2 separate regions of the Homo sapiens genome follow, and region 1 is linked to region 2. The links come from fine-mapping of genetic effects on gene expression. A gene starts in region 2. The other region holds a variant in brackets. All regions are shown on one strand. Distances are from middle to middle.

Region 1 (9,218 bases), 48 kb after region 2:
AGGTGTTTCAAAGAGTGTCCTAACAATCACCATCACATTGATCTGAATCAATACTCTGACTGATGACCTAGGAGCAAGTGTCACAAAATTTATGGATGACACTGAGGTGGGGAATGCCATAGAGGACAGAGGCAAGAGGAGGGAAAAAATAGGTTAGACATGGGTACATCTGCAATTAGAGAAAATCCATGACAAAGACATGAACAGACTGGAGTAATTTAGAAGGCAACACAATTTCGGAATGAGAAAATTCAACATTAATTTACACTGAGTAAGAATAGGGGTCAAGGTGGAGAAGGCCATTGGCATTTGCAATTGCATTTAAATCTGTATTCGGAACACGTGACCCAGAGTGATGTTTAACCCGGTAAGAACCCCCCTCTCCCATCAGGAATAAATCAGGGGGAAAGCAAGTGGAAGTAGAGGGAACTGATGGTCATGAGCCCACCCAGGTGCCAGCTCCTCTAACGTGGTTCTCACTTGCTACTCAGGAATCCTGTGCTGTAGGAATCATTAGCACTTCATAGGTGTGGATTTGGAGTCAGATTGTCCTGTCTGCTACTTTTGTTTTTAAATAGAGATGAGGGTCTCACTATGTTGCTCAGGCTTGTCTCAAACTCCTGAGCTCAAACAATTCTCCTGCCTCAGCCTCCCGAAGTGTTATAATTACAGAAACGAGCCACCACGTCTGTCCTGTGTGCTACTGTTATCCGAAGGTCAGTTGCCCTCATGGCTGGCTCCCTTCCTCACTTCTTTCTGGGTTCTGCTGCTTTCTTGGCAAGGCCTGCTTATGTAGAACAGCATCTCCTTACCTGCTTTATTTATTTCATGCCACTTATTTCCATCTGATGTACTACATGTGTGCTTATTTACTGCCCTCTCACTGGAATATAAGTTTACTGCAGAATCCCCACAGCCTAGAACATGCCTGATATGTCATACACATTTGATAAGTATTTGTTATTAAATTATACTCTTCCCAGGAATGAATGTTTTCTTTATGCTACCTAAGTGTAAACTCTTAATTCATCTACCAGGAGGCTACCTAGCTTGGAAAAGAAGAAAAAAAAATCACACTATACAAAGAAAACGCTGAACAGAGAACTTCCAAGAAGTAGGAAATATCTTGCTCAATTTTTTTTTTCAGAACATTAATTTACTTTCACTGGACAAGGAAAATCTGTTTCTGTAAACCACTATTTTTATTAATAGAAATTCCCTGCCTTTGCTAAATGGTAAACAAATGTTAAGAATTTGAAGGAGGATCACATCACTGGGCTCCTTTGAGATCCATATGCCTCAATTCAACCCTGTCAACCATGCCAAGAAAGAAGAGAGCAGCTTATGTCCAAAGAAACTGGGAAAGAAAAAACAAATCTCCATGATGCTTTCTTTAGATGACACTAAGCAACTGAATGGGGGATTAAAAAACAAAAACAAACAAAAAAACAAAACAATAAAAACACCACCACAGTAAACAAACAGAAAAAACCAAACACACATTGACCTCATCTCTGGGTCTTTTGTAACTGAAGAAACAACACCTGAGTTACATGGAACAAACACTTTATCTTAGTCTTCTTCACCTTCACTGTCCTATTTTTGAACCCTAGACACCACACCTGCCTAGCTGTCATTGGGCTTTTAAATTCTCTGAAATAGACTATCTAGGTGTTTGAGAGCAGTACATAGAAATTAGTAAGCACCTGAGAGGTGCTGATTTCTCTCTCTCTCTCTCTTTTTTTTTTGAGACAGTCTCACTCTGTTGCCCAGGCTGGAGTGCAGTGGTGCCATCTCAGCTCACTGCAGCCTCTGCCTTCCAGGTCAGGCAATATTCGTGCCTCAGCCTCCTGAGTAGCTGGGACTACAGGCGCATGCCACCATGCCTGGCTAATTTTCTGCATTTTTAGTAAAGACAGGGTTTCACTGTGTTGGCCAGGCTAGTCTCAAACTACTGAACTCAGGTGATCCACCCCTTCGGCCTCCCAAAGTGCTGGGATTACAGATGTGAGCCACCATGTCCGGCCTGAGAGGTGCTGATTTCTTTTGTGATGTTAAAGGAATTAGTTTCCTGATGAGGTTGAGCTGCTATCTGAGTAGAACCCAAGGAGGCCAAAAGGTGGGTACTTCAGGGAAGACCCTGGAGTGGTAAGACACCAGCACTGCTGCCCAGTACCATGCGAGAATCTTTTCTAAAGAAAAAAGTGTGCAGGGGGCGAAGAAAGGAAGCTGGCTTGTACAGTAGCAGAGATGGACACGTAAGTAGCTGACACTGATCAATAATGCCCATGCGCCAGGCACTGTACTGGGGCTGCATGTGCATGATATAGTCTGTCAGTCCTCACAGTAGCTCCATGAGGTTGATGCAATGACATCATAACAGAGAAGTTAAGGCAATTGCCCAAAGACACACAGCCAGCAATTGGCAGGGCCAGGCTCTAACTCTGGAGTCCCGCTTGTGATCATAATGCACTCGACCAGCACGTCCCCAGTGACACCTCAGACCTATGTAGAGTTTGCATTGCACGAAGGTGGAGGGAGTGGTACCCAGATGCTTTTTTCTATTAAAAACTGCACCAGCATCTAAGAGGGAAGGATTATTCCAGATGAGTTTGCAATAAGATCCCTTTGATCCTTTGTAATCTTTCATCAATTAGCTCATGCAGCCAAAAATATTTCTGACTAATCACTTTAAAGAATGACTTTGAGAACTCCTGTAGTCTGCTCTCTTATGCCTACTTCAATGGGAAAATAGTTATACAAACTAGGAACTGCCATCTTCAGCATAATTTTAACTGGCCAGAGAAACTACCCAATCATTACCCAGAAAAGTTGAATCTATAAAGCAATTACTTTTCTGTTTCAGAATCCATCTCAGCCCCCCAACCTGGCCCTACTGAATTATAAAGGTGTGAAACAACCTAACACATCCAAGCAAATCCATCTCCATGACAACACAGTAGCGATGCAGTCCTGGAATCAGGATGCCTGCATTCCAGGCTGGCTGGATTACCTAGGGAAGTTTCCTCAGCCTCAATAAATCAGAGTTTTCTCATCAGTGAGATGGGGAGCCATTGCATTTGCTGCAAGGTTCCTAGGAGATCATTTATTTCTCATCACCATTAATTTCTCATCTCTGATGTTTATAGTGCACTTAAAATGTTCCAGGCATCTAATGCTTCCTGTGTATTGCATTTAATTCTTACCCCCATGAGGTAGGTGCCATCATTAAAACCTGATTTAAGGATGAGAGGCTTGAAGCTTAGCTGAAGTTACACAGCTAGTCAGTGATGAGCCAGGATTTGTACTCAGATTTGAATGACTTCAGAGGCCACATTTTTTTTTTTTTTTTTTTTTTTGAGACAGGGTCTTACTCTGTCGCCCAGGCTGGAGTACAATGGTGCTATCTCAGCTCACTACAACCTCTGCCTCGCAGGTTCAAGCAATTCTCCCGCCTCAACCTCCTGAGTAGCTGGTAGTACAGTGCACCTCACCATGCCCAGATAATTTTTGTATTTTTAGTAAAGACAGGGTTTCACCATGTTGGCCAGGCTGGTCTCAAACTCCTGACCTCAAGTGATCCACCCACCTCAGCCTCCCAAAGTACTGAGATTACAGGCATGAGCCACTGCACTGGGCCAGAGGCCACATTTTTAATCAATACAAGCTAAAGCTTGTTAATGTTTCATGACTGAACTCTGCCCTGCCTCTCTGCTGCCATCCTTTGTATATGAAACTCTTAGAATTAGATAAAAATCCCTGGAAGAGCATATTCAGACATAAAGCCTTATTGCTGTCAAATGGACCCAGGCTGCACGTGTTCAAAATTGGTCGAGGAAATCCCATGTTACCATTCTGAGCAGGCCCAGGTGGTCAGACTCCATCAGAGGATGCTGCATTCATGATGGGTGCTGTGCAGGGTCACTTGCCACACTGTGTCACCTCTATGTCATTGCTTTGCCTAGAGCTGGTAGTTTAAAATTTTAACCACTAGCTCCAATTTTATTGCTTCCTCAGGACACATATCATAAAACGATGAATGCTTTACTCTTATTTCCAAAAAAATGTCATAACTTGTTCAAGGTCACATAGCTTGTTACTGGCAGGGCTGAGTCATTTGGGTAAATTATTAGGCCTTAGTTTCTTCATCTATAAAATAGGGGGATTAGACTAAATCATCTCCAAGCTCTCCTTCGGCTCTCAAAAATTTATGGTTCTGGGCCACAGACACCACCAGCCAAGCAACAAGCTGGATTCAGTCTTCCTCTTCAAACTGGGGAAGGAGGAAAATAGGAAAGAGGAGCTGCAGTGTGAGGGCAGCAAGGAGCTAAATAGCTGAGGAATGAAGGCTGGGGAGGGAGTCGGGGGCAGAGTCAAGAGACTGGCAGATGTGGTAAAGACCGAGCCACTTGTGGAGGCAGAGCTGTGTGGAAGGCGAGGCCTCAGCCACTGACAAGTAGCTCAGGCCTCTCTCCATGGAATTTCCCCTAAGCTAGTTACCCCTTTCTCAGCTCAAGTCAGCCATTTCCCTGCCTCTTCAGTGAGAGGGAGGAAGAGACTGTATGGTTACAGCAACTCCAGTTTCTTGATCTCAGTCCACCTGTGCTTACTGTGGATAAAGTTAGTTGTTACCAAATTATATCAAATCGAAGACTATGTCTATTGTGAGGCGCACCATTATTTTTACAGATAACCAAGAAAGATAGACACTGCAAATTATCTTTGCATGGCGTTATCAATTCTAAGATGGAATCTATTTACAGGAGACATTAAGAAGTATGTCTTAGAATTGATGAAATATATTCTAACTCCCTCCATTACTCATGATAAAATCCACAAGTTAAGGGTTTCCTATGTACCAGGCACTATATTAAATGCTTTACATAATCTCACAACAGCCTGTGAGGTAAGTGTTATTCCCATTTATAGGTGAGAAAAGCTCAGAGAAGGTAAGTAACCTGCCCAAGTTTGCCCAGCTAGAGGAGACTATATAGGAACTGGGGTCAGTCTGACTGCAGAGCATGTGCCTTGAATCACTAGGTCATCTCACCTTCAGCAGAGAGCTACTGGATTACAGTCCTTGGGATGACAAGTGGACTTGTTTCTGGGGTCCCTGACCTCTCCCTCCCCTACTGTTCTGGATAGAGCTGCTAACAAAGGAAGAAAGTCGGGAAGGGCTCACAGGTACATTCTTGGCTCATGGGGCAACCAGGAAGACAGCTCCAGCTCTGGGTATGCAAGAGTTAAACATGGGAGAAGTGGGCTTAGAAGGGCACCAGAATTCCCAGAGATGGCTTTACAGGAAAATATGAGAGAATAAGAAGAAGGAGTCAGAAAGAAAGGAAGGTGAATTTGGTACCTCAGAGCTCCCATGGAGGGGGATGATGACTGTAAGGCTGATGAATATGGTTCGGGGGTCCTGGCATGCATGTGCCTTTCCAAGAACCTGAC[A/AG]GGGACCTACCAGTTGTGAATTCACAATTTTACCTTCCTTTTTAAAAAGAGGACTCAAATTCTGAACATTTCAAGTTTCATAAACCTGGATCCTCCAGTTCCAATCTTGGTGGTAATGAAAGCAGGTGTGGTTGGGGGTGGTGGGCCTCAGAGAAAGCTGGAAGGGCGTGGGGCCACATGAGCACACAGAAGGAGTGATGGTTGAAAAAAAAAAAAAGTCGGGGGAAATATGACTATGAGAAAAGGATGTCTGCTTCCTTGGCCTGCCAAGTTTTATTTGGCCTGCAGAAGTAGACCATTTCCTGCCCCATTCCTTCCAAGACCAACTCCACAGACTGGCAGTGAGCAATTTTCCTCCATTTACTTTGAAGAAGTTGTTTTACCAATGAGCCCTGAAAGTGGGCAGATTGTCATAGAACTCTTAGGTATATTTTTTCTATTCTTTAACAATGTTTTTGTGCCTGTTTTATCATGGATGTATTAATGTAGTAGTATATGTATATAATTTTATATAGATAACTATACATAAGACAAGCAATGGAGAAATTTATTGATTGATATAGGTCTGTGATCAAGAAGTTGCAAGATTATTGCCCTGTGGAGATATTTCTCCAGTCTCTTAAAGTTCTCCCATTAGAATACTTATACACTGTTGGCAGGAGTGTAAATTAAATCAACCATTCTGGAAAGCAGTATGGCAATTCCTCAAAGAGCTAAAAGAAGAACTACCATCCCACCCAGCAATCCCATTACTGGGTATAAACCCAGAGGAATATAATTCATTCTACTATAAAGACATATGCACGCAAATGTTCTTTGCAGCAGTATTCACAATAGCAAAGATATGGAATCAAACTAAATGCCCATCAATGACAGTCTGGGTAATGAAAATGTGGTATAGATATACCATGGAATACTATGCAGCCATAAAAAAGAACAAGATCATGTCTTTCACAGGAACATGGACGGAGCTGGAGGCTACTATCCTTAGCAAACTAATGCAGGAACAGAAAACCAAATGCTGCATATCTAAGTGGGAGCTGAATGGTAAGAACTTCTGAACACACAGAAGGAAATGACCGACACTGGGGTCTACTTGAAGGTGGAGGGTAGGAGGAGGGAGAGGAACAGAAAGGATAACTATTGGGTACTGGGTTTAATACCTATGTGATGAAATAATATGTGCAAACCCCCATGACATGTATTTACCTATGTAACAAACCTTGACATGTACCCCCCAAATCTAAAATAAAAGTAAAAAAAATAAGTTCTCCCCTTAAAGCTTCTGGGCAACAAGGTCATAAAAGACACTCATCTTGGGTAAAATTGTAGTTACATTCATAGACTTCAATGCTCAATGTTTTGGACCTTTGCTTTCTTACATTTCTTTCAACTTGGACAGTAAATTAAAACCATTGTTCTATTTTTCTCTTTTTCAGTTACTAGCCCAGTATTTGGAATTTGCCAAAGCTATATTCCTCAGAATTTACTTCAAGAGCTCCTTTGTATCGGCGGAGAATGAAGAACGGAGAAGAGGAGGAGGAGGTTGAAAGAAACTTAAGAGATGTGGCAACTAATTGCAACGTGTAGATTGTATTTAGCTCATGATTCACACAAACTAGATATTTGTTATTAAAGAATTATGGTTGTTTTTGGTGTGATATTAGTATTGTGCTCACATTTCTTAAGAATCTATCTTTAGAGATAGGTGCTGAAATTCTTGCAGATGAAATGACATTATCATCTGAGATGTGCTTCAAAAACAGTTAAAGGAGATATCGATAAGATGGCCTTGAATTCACAATTGCTGAAGATGGGTATAGGCCACATGGAGTTTTATTATAATCTTTTCTCTCCTTTTATATTGTTTGTAGTTTTCCATTATAAGTTAAAATGAAGAAAATAAGTCAACCAACATGAAGCGGTCAGTGAGATTCTTACGGACATCCCAGCTTTGCCTCTTATCCGCCTGACATAGTCATGGAACTAGAAAGACAAGCACAATTTGCCAAGCATCAGAGTGGCATCTTGAAACTGCTGGGTTTTGTTTAGGGTGGCCTCCCTAGGAGGAGAACACTTTGGACCAGGGAGTGAACAGCTTGGAACTGGAGTGGCTTTACTGCTGGCAAAAAAGAATTTGCTAATTCTCAAAGGGGGGAAAAAATAAAATCATGAAACAGGATCACAATGCTCTTTGGACATCAAAGAATCATTACAAAACAAGATTTTGGTGAGTTCAATGTAAATGAATGAGGGCCATGCGGCTTCAATTTCCTTCAAAATACACAAGTTTAAAAATTCAAGGAAAAATGCCCTGTTAAACATGTGCTGAACTGAAATGCTTCGAGAGTCATTGAGCCCAAATGGGCCCTGGCTTTGCCCCAAGACTGGATCTTGTTCCTGTTGGAATATGATTTCTCCAACATACCCCATTTCCTCTGTAAACTCTACCTCCTTCCTTCCAGGTCCTCGTCCAAATTCTACTTCAGATGCTCAAAACACAGGACAAGACAAATCCAGGGATCAGCAACACTTTTTTTTCCCCTTTTCAATTTTGATAAGAAAGAAACAAATTCTTGGAGACTCAATTTGGAAAACATTTGCTGGCAAATCCATAAAGCTCACCCTGTTGGTTTGAACTTTGAAAGTGTTGGGAATGGCTAACACAGTGAAAATGAAGTGGGGAGGAAATGGATGCTAAGGCAATCCACTGTATTCCACTCACTCCCGACTCATTCACCCCAGAAAAAATCCAACCATAATCATCTGGACCTTCCTGTGTGGATCTCCATTAGTATAAAGCTTTTTTAAAAAGGCACTTCCCCAGGTCCTGGAGTTCATGGCCCAATACCTGGCCCAGGTCTGACTGAAGTTAGTAGGCAGGAAAAGGAGCTACTAAGGGTGGTCTTGCCACACAGCCTTCACCTAGAGAAGGGGATACTGAAAAGCCAGACCAGGGCGTAATGGATAGATGGAAATAGATACAGAAAATGGAGGCAAGCAACCTCCCCACTTGAAAGCCTGGAACGCCCAGCTGGGTTTGATTTAAAGCTCTCTTTGGGCCTGTGAGCCCCAAAATGAATGTTCTTGTTGCATGAAGTCTGTGCAGTTTGTCAGAGGTGTATGTCGCAGGTTAGGTTAGAGTCAGTTAACCTAGGAGGCGGTTGGTGGTTGGAATCCTTGGTTCTAAGAGCTTGGTGTGTTCTGTGGCTCTGACTCCTGGGGCCTACCACATTTTGCAGGAAGGGCATACATAAGGCTGCCCATAACTCTTACCGCTTTTGGCAGTTTCTCCCCGAGGCCTCATCCTTCTGTTACAGTAGGTAGTTAGACAGACATGAGGCAGGGAAGGCCACCCTCCCCACAATGAGGAATGTCAGGCAACCATCAGGTGATGGTCAGGCAGTTGTTAATTGTCTCTCTAAAATAATCATTGGTTGAAGCCAGGGCCAGGCAGTTTCCCAATAAATAGAAAACACCTGAAACTGGTGATCAGCTTCCTAGTAAGATCTCAGGAGTTGGGTGAGTGGACTCAAGCATGCGCACTAAGAGGCAAAATGGCAGAGTTTAACTGGTATATGAATCCTCAACTGATAAGGAGAAAAAGCCCTCAAGTGAGCACGTACACAACTTCAGTAAACACACTGCGCACGCTCACCCCCCAAGTGCCTGAATGCCACTGTGGATGCGGACAGCCCACTCCAAGGGAAGAATCAGGGGAGAAGAGATGCAACCCCCCTGGAAGCATGCCAACATATGAAACACCA
Region 2 (9,218 bases):
CCCCCAAGTCCGTATATGATTTCATTTATATAACATTCTTGAAATTCAAAATTATAGAAATAGAAAACAGATTAGTTATTTCCAAGGGTTAAGGAGGACGTGGGGCGGGGAGGGAAATGGATGTGGCAATAGAAGGCAACTTTTATAGGGATCTTTGTGGTGATGGAAATCTTCTGTTATGACTGTTAATGTCAATAGCATGCTTGTGATGCCATACTATGGTTTTGCAAGATGTTAACACTAGGAAAAACAGTAACGAGACATGGGATCTCTCTGTATTATTTCTTACAATTACATATTAATTGATAATTATCTCAAAATACGAAGGTGAGTTACAATTGCATACTAATTGATAATTATCTTAAAATAAAAAAGCTAAAGAAAAAAAAATTTCAACAGTGACCCTGACGAAGTCAACAAAATACATACAGGTGCTTGATGACATTATACTGGTCAGAAAAGTGGATTAGTTTGAACAGTCATGAACTCTACTTGCCTGAGTGATCAAGAATTTGCGTCCCTCTCTTCTTAGGGGGCTTCCTCTCAGGTTCATACTTGGGTTTCCAAGTGCTTTCGAAGTCACCTGGACTTAGCCATGGAGACTAAGACTTACTCTGTCCATAGGATCCCTGGAGAATGCATGGCATAGCTTTTTTTTTTTTTAAGATGGGTCTTGCTCTATTGCTCAGGCTAGAGTGCAGTGGCACGATCTCAGCTCACTGCAACCTCCGCCTCCCAGTTTCAAGTGATTCTCCTGCCTCAGCCTCTTGAGTAGCTAGGATTACAGGCACCTGCCACCACACCTGGCTAATTTTTTGTATTTTTAGTAGAGATGGGGTTTCACCCTGTTGGCCAGGCTGGCCTTGAACTCCTGACCTCATGTGATACACCTGCCTCGGCCTCCCAAAGTGCTGGGATTACAGGCATGGGCCACCACGCCCAGCCGAGTAATGTTCTTACCTGGGCAGAAGCTTTGAAAATGTTGGTCTTTCCATCCTGACTCCTTGAAAGGGAGGCACTGCATGACACATGTGGTAGTGACAGGGTGCCTGGTTCAGGGGGATGTGCATTCTTGCTCATGTCCGGGGTTTCTGACTGGGATCCTGGAATGACCTCTGACTCACCTGAATCAGATGAGCCGCACTTTCTGGGCTGCCATATCGAAGATCATGTCCATTGATGGCTAACACACGGTCATTCTCCTCAAGCTGACCATGTCGATATGCCACACCGCCATCCAGCACATTGAAGATGAAAACCCCAGGCTCATCCACCTTGCGCACCAGTTTTATTCCAAGCTGCTCCTCGGGGCTACTTTTGTTGAGAATCACATGAAAGCTGTCATCTCGGGGTCTGTAGGCATCCGGGGCCTGTCCATTGTTCCTGCTGCGGAACTTCTGTTCACGCATCACAGTCAGCCACAGCACCTGGCAGGGCTGCCGCAGGAGACGCACAGCGTAGTTGTGAGGGACATTGCTGATGTCCATCCCGTTGACCTGGGGGCAGGTGGAACAATCGTGCGGTCAGCTCCACCTGCCACAACCCTTCCTGAAAGATCCAGGCCCACAGAAAAGCCAGGATCCTGTCTTTAAAGACTGCTCTGCTCTCCCACCTCATCCTGTGTCCAATAACCGCACCTTCCAACAGCGTTTCTAACCCTGTTCTCTCCAAGCGTGGCCTGCAGCACCTCTCCAGGCCTCTGTGAGTAGACACCATCTTTCTCCACCTTGTTCTTACCCAAGCCCACATATTTATTCCCAGAATCCTAGCCTTCATTTCTGTTGTCATTATTTTTTAGCTGGCAGGAAGAGAGGGAAGGAAGATAAGGTAGGAAAAGGCAAAAGAAAAGCATTTTTCCCATTTGCCTCAGTCAAATGATTGCATTAAACAGCTCTTCAAGCCGAGTTGACATTTTCTTCCCAAAAATCTCCAATTGAATTTTTCTCCCTGGGTCAACTCATACCAGAACTTCCAGTCCTCACCACTGTGTGTGTATGTAGATGTGATAGTGTGTGAGTGAGGGTCTGAGTGTGTGAGCACGATGGAGTGTATGTGCGTGTGATACTGTGTGTGTGCGGATGGGAATGTGTCAGGTCTCAGGGTGGTCCCCTGCAAGGTTTTTTTGCCCATGTTCTCAGCAAAAGGAAGAAATCCTTGCACAGTTTCAGACAAACTGATATGAAAGGAAGTTTCCAGGCTCTTTTATTGAAAGGCTAGATCTCTTTATAAAGCTACTTAAACAAGCTTAAGCTCGGCCCTCTCATTTGTGCCTCACTAATGATGTGTAGGGCTGATACTGCATGGGGCTTTCTGGTTTTAATTTCTCTGGCTACACAGGCCCAGCCAGAGCCCCCTATGTTGGAAGAAAACAATTTCGCAGCAATTGCTGCACTCTGTGTTTGAGGAAAGAGGCCCCATGGAGGAGAAATAACTTTCTTGAATTTCTGTAGTTTGATAAGATTTCTTGTATTTGCAGCCAATTGTTAGAGAAGGCTTGGAATGGGCTTTACAAAGGCCTTTCTTGAGGATATAATCACCTGTTCTCTGGTGCAGCTCCAGAGGCTCCCTCATGCAAAGGCAAAGCTCACCACCTTTGTCCAAGCACAGGTGAGGAGAGCACCTGAGGTGGCAGGGCCGGGTTCCCCCATCACCTCTGGGCCCAGAGAAGGTCAGGGGAGTCAGGGTTGCCTGCTAAATAGTCCTGGCAGCCCTTTTGTTTGTAAGCTCCAGTTGAAGGCCACAAGAATCAAAATGTTTTGTTATGCAACCCTGCCAGGCAGCATAGTTTCCACTAGAACTGGGAGGCAGCAGTGCACAGTGTAGCTGATTGTACTGCGGCCTGCCCCGAGGGCCCTGTCTTATGCTCCACCTCGGAGGCCAGCAGGAATTTCAGTATTTCTGTGAAAACTGCTTTAGGTTATTTCTCCTCTTATTCCAATCAGTTTGCCAAAGAAACAGCTCATAATGTGACAGGAGCCGGTCCCTCAGCAACCTAGAAGGGATGGGATAGAACTGTTATCTGAGTGTCAGATAGAAAATATACGAGCAGGGAGGGGTTTCTTGGCACTTTTGGCAAACATTGGACTTCTGCCTGGTAAACAGATCTTTTTATCCTTTCTGTTCTGAAAATTCCTCCTTCTCCTTAACCAAGCCTCTGAGGACAGTAACACCCAAAGCATTCTATTCCAACACCTGTCTCCCCTGGTATGTCTCTGGGTTGGTGGAATTAGCATAGAGATTACTTTTATTTTCAGGGAGGGCCGTAAGACTATAGGAAATTGACTTTCAAAAAGTAGATGATTGTGATTAAATAAAATACAAAATGTTCTATTAATCTACTCTAAAAACAATTTAAGAAAATATATGTCCCAGTTTTATTTTATATTAATGCTCTTTAAAAAAAGAGATAAAAGGAGAAAGAGGAGGTGGAGAAAGGGAATGAAGAGGAAGATTGAAAAAGCTAGAAGGGAGAAGGCAGAAGAGTGGACAGACAAAATGATATAGAGACAGATAAATATTTATATACAGAGAGAAAGGGGGGAGAGAGTGAAAGAGCAAGACAGAGAGAAACAAAGATCTCAATTAAATGACAAATCTCAGAGAGTCATAAAATGATAGAAAGTCACTATCCACATTTATTTTACCATTTCCCTCATTCATCCATCCATCTATCCAATTGTTTGCTCAGAAGCATTTTTTTATATCAAGCCCCTTGCTGCAGCCCCACAGCCACAGTCTCTACCTTTAGAATGATGTCTCCTGGCAGTAGCCGGCCGTCTCTGGCGATCACCCCATCACGATAAATGTGTTGGATAATGATATGGACCAGTGGGGTTTCGCTACCTCCCACCAGCCTAATAGAGAGGCTTTCACTGGGATCTACTCGATTGATCTTGATGCTGGTAATTTCACCATCTGGAATCAGGTGGTACAACCTTGGAAAGACTGAAATGGACAAAGAGTGTTTATTTAAGACACCCACCCAATGGACCTTTCCAACTACTCTTCTTGCCAAACTTCAGTGTCAGCCAAACTAAACTATTCATTTTTCCTCATACATGTTTTCCATTTTCCTGCCTCTGTGTCAATGTAAGTTTCTCTGCTTGGAATGTTTTTCATCCTGAGCTTAAACCCAATTTTTCCTTCAAGGCCCTTCCAATTAAACTCTACCCTGATTCCTCCTTCCCTTGCTCTAAACAGCCCACTTCCTATAAAGCTTTCTAGCTATTTCTCATGGCACTCAACCCATTATTGTTATTTTTACCTTTTTGTTTTTGTTTCTGTTTTTTGAGACAGGGTCTTACTCTGTTGCCCAGGCTGGAATGCAGTGTCTCACTACAACCTCCGCCTCCTGAGCTCAAGTGATCTTCCCACCTCAGCCTCCCAAGTAGCTAAGACTACAGGCACATGCCACCATTCCTGGCAAATTTTTACATTTTTTGTGGAGACGGAGTTTTGTCATGTTGTCCAGGCTGGTCTTGAAATCCTGAGCCCAGGTGATCCACCCACCTCGGCCTCCCAAAGTGCTGGGATTACAGGTGTGAGTCACCTCTCCCAGCTTATACTCATTTCTTATATACCTCATATCATGCCCATAAAACCTGAGGGCATAAACTCTCGCTGTTCCATGGTTCTCTGCATATATCTCTGCATGCAGAGGCCTTCAGCTGAAGTTTACTGAATTAATAGAAGTGAATGAATCATTTTTAATGGAATGAATTGCAGTTTTATCGCTTGCTTATTGAGAGGTAAAAAACAGAACCAATTTGCCACTTTGCCCTCTCAGATAATTTTGAAAATTTCTTCCTTAAAGACTCTGCTTTTCAGGCTTGGGGGAACATCAGTTCTTTCTACCAGACATTGTTGTTAACAAATGGAAGAGGCCTGATTCATGATCAAGAAGAGGCCAAGGCCTAGTTGGTGGCCTTGAGCAGTTCATCCCTGGTTTGCCTGAAATCACTGAGTTCAGAGCAAGGAGATTCAAAGATCATCTAGGCTGGTGTTTTCAAACTGTATTTTTAAACTGATGAATCTGCTTTCCCCAAGAAATCTCTCCTAGCTCTCTTCTCATCTTTCATCCCATTGTGACCACACAGAAAACAGCTGCTCTAATTGTCCTGCTGCTTGACAGTGATAGTCAAACACTACAAGTGAGGAGGTTTAAGGCTGAGAGAAGGGGAGTGAAGTAACTGACTGGACATCCCAAAGTTAGGTGGTCCTGAGAGCCAGGTCAGAACCCAGAGTTCTTGTGACCGGTACTCTCTGTCAGGTATCCCTGGAGCCAGGGGTTCACAGCCAGGCCAGAGCCCATGAGGGACTTGCTCTATGGACCTATGAGCCAGCAGCACCGACTGGCATTGTTTTTTTTTTCACTTCAGTTTGAATAGAAGTGTTCAGAGGGGACACCAACAAGTGATGGGAACAAGCCACACCTAGCTTGGTGGAAAAAGGGGCTCCTCCAAGCAGCTAGAGGCTCAAGTTTGAATGTAAAGGGCTGAGATGCTTCTGTCTTCCGTAGGTGCTGACAGCTGCCTCACCTTAAGAGTCTCCTTTCGTTATGGCATCTGGAAAGATCTCACATGGCAGGCCTGCTTCTAGTTCCTTGTGAGCATTTTCAAAACCCGTGACCTTAGTCCATTTTCCCTAATGAATTAATAAGTACTCAACTCTCTAAGAACAATAAAGAATTAAAATTATTTCTAAGTATGTTAGGGCAAAGTAACTTAGTGGGCAGAGGAAACCCGAGATGTTGTAAATGTGGGTCCTTAATCTCTATACTGATTGAACTGAAGTGACTGCATAAGGCAGGGGTAAGCTGGCTTCAGCAGTCAGCTCCTGGTACTAACAGTACTCGGGTGATTGAGTTCAATTAATGTTTAAACTACTTTGGTTATATTAAGTAGGCTATACCACAGGCAATTGCTAGAACATGTCTGGTATAACAAGGGAATGGAAAAAAATTCATTCTGAGCAAAGAAAGATTTGGAAATAATCACAAAAGCCAATTTTCCCTCCCTCATTCCCCTTCCCTTGTTACCATCTTTTCCAACAGATTTACAAAAACCACACTGCCAAACCTAAACCGCTAGAGAATGTTTGATTTGATAGCTTGAAAGGACATACCATTCACACTTGTAAATGATGTTAGAGCAACACCAATGAGATCCTAGTGACCTTAAAGAGATAAAGGAATTTTTAAACTGCCAAACTTGTGTTGGTCTGGAAAGTAAAAAATTTGCTCAATATTATGTCCTTACTCAAGGACTAAAGGATATAATCTTATTAGCTGAGAGTTTGTTATATGCTGACATTGAGTTAAGGTATTTGAATGCATTTTTTTGTTTAGTCTTCACAATAACCCTATGAAATAGATGATAATAATCTTTTTTTTTTTTTTTTTTGGGGGTGGGGGGACAGGATCTCACTCTGTCACCCAGGCTGGAGTATAGTGGTACAATCTTGGCTCAAAGCAGCCTTGACCTCATGGGCTCAGGCAATCCTCCCATCTCAGACCAAGAAGCTGGGAGTACAGGTGTGTGCCACCATGTCCCACTAATTTCATTTTTTGTAGAGACAAAGTCTCACCATGTTCCCCAGGCTGGTCTCAAACTCCTGGGCTCAAGAGATCCTCTCACTTTGGCCTCCAAGTGCTAGGATTACCGGTGTAAGCCACCATGCCCAGACCCATCTCTGTCTTTTCAGATGAAGAAATGCTGAAGCTTAGAGCATTAAGCAACCCAGCCAGGGTCACACAGTTGATAAACAGTGGCGCCAGTCCCTTTACTGACATTAAAAGGATGGATAAACCATGCCAGGAAGCTAACTGTAGGTTGCTGAAGCAATGAGGCCCTCTGGCCATTTTGAAAGCATTGTTGCCTCACAAATGCTGTGACGACATTGATACCAGGCTAGCTGAGTCTTAACACCTCACTCCATTCTGGAATTACAGCTTCCTAGTGTGTCTGAGGAAATCCAATCTCTCCCACTCCAGCCCGCCTACTCATTGAACATGGCTGCTATCTCTGTCTTCTGGAAACACGGCTCCAATCCTGCAACAACTCTATACAAGAGCTCCCAGGTGTGTTCACTACCCCCAAATCAAGTACAGACTCCTAAATAATAATCAGGACACACTATGATCTGACCTTCACCTCATCTTCTGTATTGGTCTGGAAAGAAAATGATTTGTTCAATATTATGTCCTCACTCAAGGACTAAAGGATATAATAATAATTATTAACTGAGAGTTTACTATATGCTGGCATTGAGCTAAGCTACTTGAATGCATTTTCCAACACACAGTCAGCATCCCAACATCCATCCAAGTCACATGGATTACACTGTCCCCTATGGCTGCTATGGTCATTAATTTATACTTCATTCTTCATAGTACAGGCATACCTCTGAGATATTGTGGGTTTGGTTCCAGACTGCTATAAGAAAGTGAGTCTTTTGGTTTCTCTGTGGTTATAAGAGTTATGTTTACACTGTACTCTAGTCTATCAAGTGTACAATAGCATGTTTTTTAAAATGTACATATCTCAATTTAAAAATACTTTATTGCTAAAACATGCTGTTTAACGATCATCTGAGGCTTCAGCTTGTTGTAATCTTTTTGCTGGTAGAGAGTCTTGCCTTGATGTTGATGGCTGCTGACTGATCACAGTGGTGGTTGCTGAAGGTTGGGAGTGGCTTGGCAATTTCTTAAAATAAGACAACAATGAAGTTTGCCACATGAACTGACTCTCGTGAAAGATTTTTATGCAGATTCTCTGTAGAATGCAATGCTGTTTGATAGCATTTAAACTTCAGTAGAACTTCTTTCAAAATTAGAGTCAATCCTCTACTAACCTTGCTGTTTTATCAACTATGTTTATGTAATATTCTCAATCCTTTGTTGTCGTTTCAACAATGTTCACAGCATCTTCAGCAGAAGTAGTTTCCATCTCAAGAAACCACTTTATTTGCTCATCCGTAAGAAATGCCTCTACACTCATTCAAGTTTTATTATGAGATTGCAACAATTTGGTCATATCTTTTTTTTTTTTTTTAGATGGAATCTTGCTCTGTTGCCCAGGCTGGAGTGCAGTGGTGCGATCTCGGCTCACTGCAAGCTCCGCCTCCCAGGTTCACATCATTCTCCTGCCTCAGCCTCCCGGAATTTGGTCATATCTTTAAGCTCCACTTCTAATTCTAGTTCTCTTGCTATTTCCACCACATCTATAGTTACTTTTCTCCACTGAAGTCTTGAACCCCTCAAAGTCATCCTTGAGAATTAAAATCAACTTCCTCCAAACTCCTGTTAATGTTGATATTTTGACCTCCTCCCATGAATCACTAATGTTCTTAATGGCATGTAGAAGGGTGAATCCTTTCCAGAAGGTTTTCAATTTTCCTTGCCCAGATCCATCAGAGGAATCACTATGTATGGCAGCTATAGCCTTTCGAAATTTATTTCTTAAATAATGAGACTTAAAAGTAGAAATTACTCTTTGATCCACGGGCTGCAGAATGGATATTGTGTTATCAGGCATGAAAACATCATTACTCTTGCGTCTCCATCGAAGTACTTGGGTAACTAGGATGCATTATCAATGAGTAGCAATATTTTGAAAGGAACTTTTCTTTCTGAGTAATAGGCCTCAACAGTGGGCTTAAAATATTGAGTAAACTATGCTGTAAAAAGATGTGCTGCCATCCAGTCTTTGTTGTTCCATGGAGAAAGCACAGGCAGAGTAGATTTAGCATAATTCTTAAGGGTCCTAGGATTTTTGAAATGATAAATGAGCACTGGACCCCACCTTAAAATCACCAGCTGTATTAGCCCCGAACAAGAGAGCCAGCCTGTCCTTTGAAGTTTTGAAGCCAGGCATTGACTTCTCTCTAGTTAAGAAAGTCCTAGATGGCATCTTCTCCCAATATAAGGCTGTATCATCTACATTGAAAATCTGTTGGCTGAGTGCGGTGGCTCACACCTGTAATCCTAGCACTTTGGGAGGCCGAGGCAGGCGGATGACCTGCGGTCAGGAGTTCAAGATCAGCCTGGCCAACATGGCGAAACCCTGTCTCTACTAAAAATACAAAAAATTAGCCAGGCATAGTGGTGCACGCCTGTAATCCCAGCTACTTGGGAGGCTGAGACAAGAGAATCACTTGAACCCAGGAGGCAGAGGTTGCAGTGAGCTGAGATCATGCCACTGCACTCCAACCTGGGCTAC

Alleles and levels. Positions count from the first base shown, and alleles are read on the strand shown. Sizes are in standard deviations (SD) of each study's normalised expression.
For the expression in testis of the gene that starts at base 5,179 in region 2, AG is the low allele of the variant in region 1 and A is the other (moderate effect, 0.47 SD a copy in GTEx).

What was found. PIP is the estimated chance that this variant, and not a neighbour inherited with it, causes the effect.
Region 1: its variant is fine-mapped to the expression of LNX1-AS1 in testis (GTEx, PIP above 0.99).

The regions. Positions count from the first base shown.
Region 1 is chr4:53,542,467-53,551,684 of GRCh38, forward strand. The region is part of intron 2 of LNX1 (ligand of numb-protein X 1); the gene reads right to left. Among named protein-coding and RNA genes, the nearest start is that of LNX1, 44 kb to the right of the region's middle. The variant A/AG (reference allele first, on the strand shown) is at 5,452.
Region 2 is chr4:53,494,899-53,504,116 of GRCh38, forward strand. LNX1-AS1 (LNX1 antisense RNA 1) reads left to right here and starts at 5,179. Exons shown (of 4, transcript NR_046622.1): 1 at 5,179-5,229; 2 at 5,519-5,604; 3 at 6,950-7,078. It overlaps LNX1 (ligand of numb-protein X 1), which reads right to left. Exons shown (of 11, transcript NM_001126328.3): 5 at 3,743-3,945; 6 at 1,125-1,496.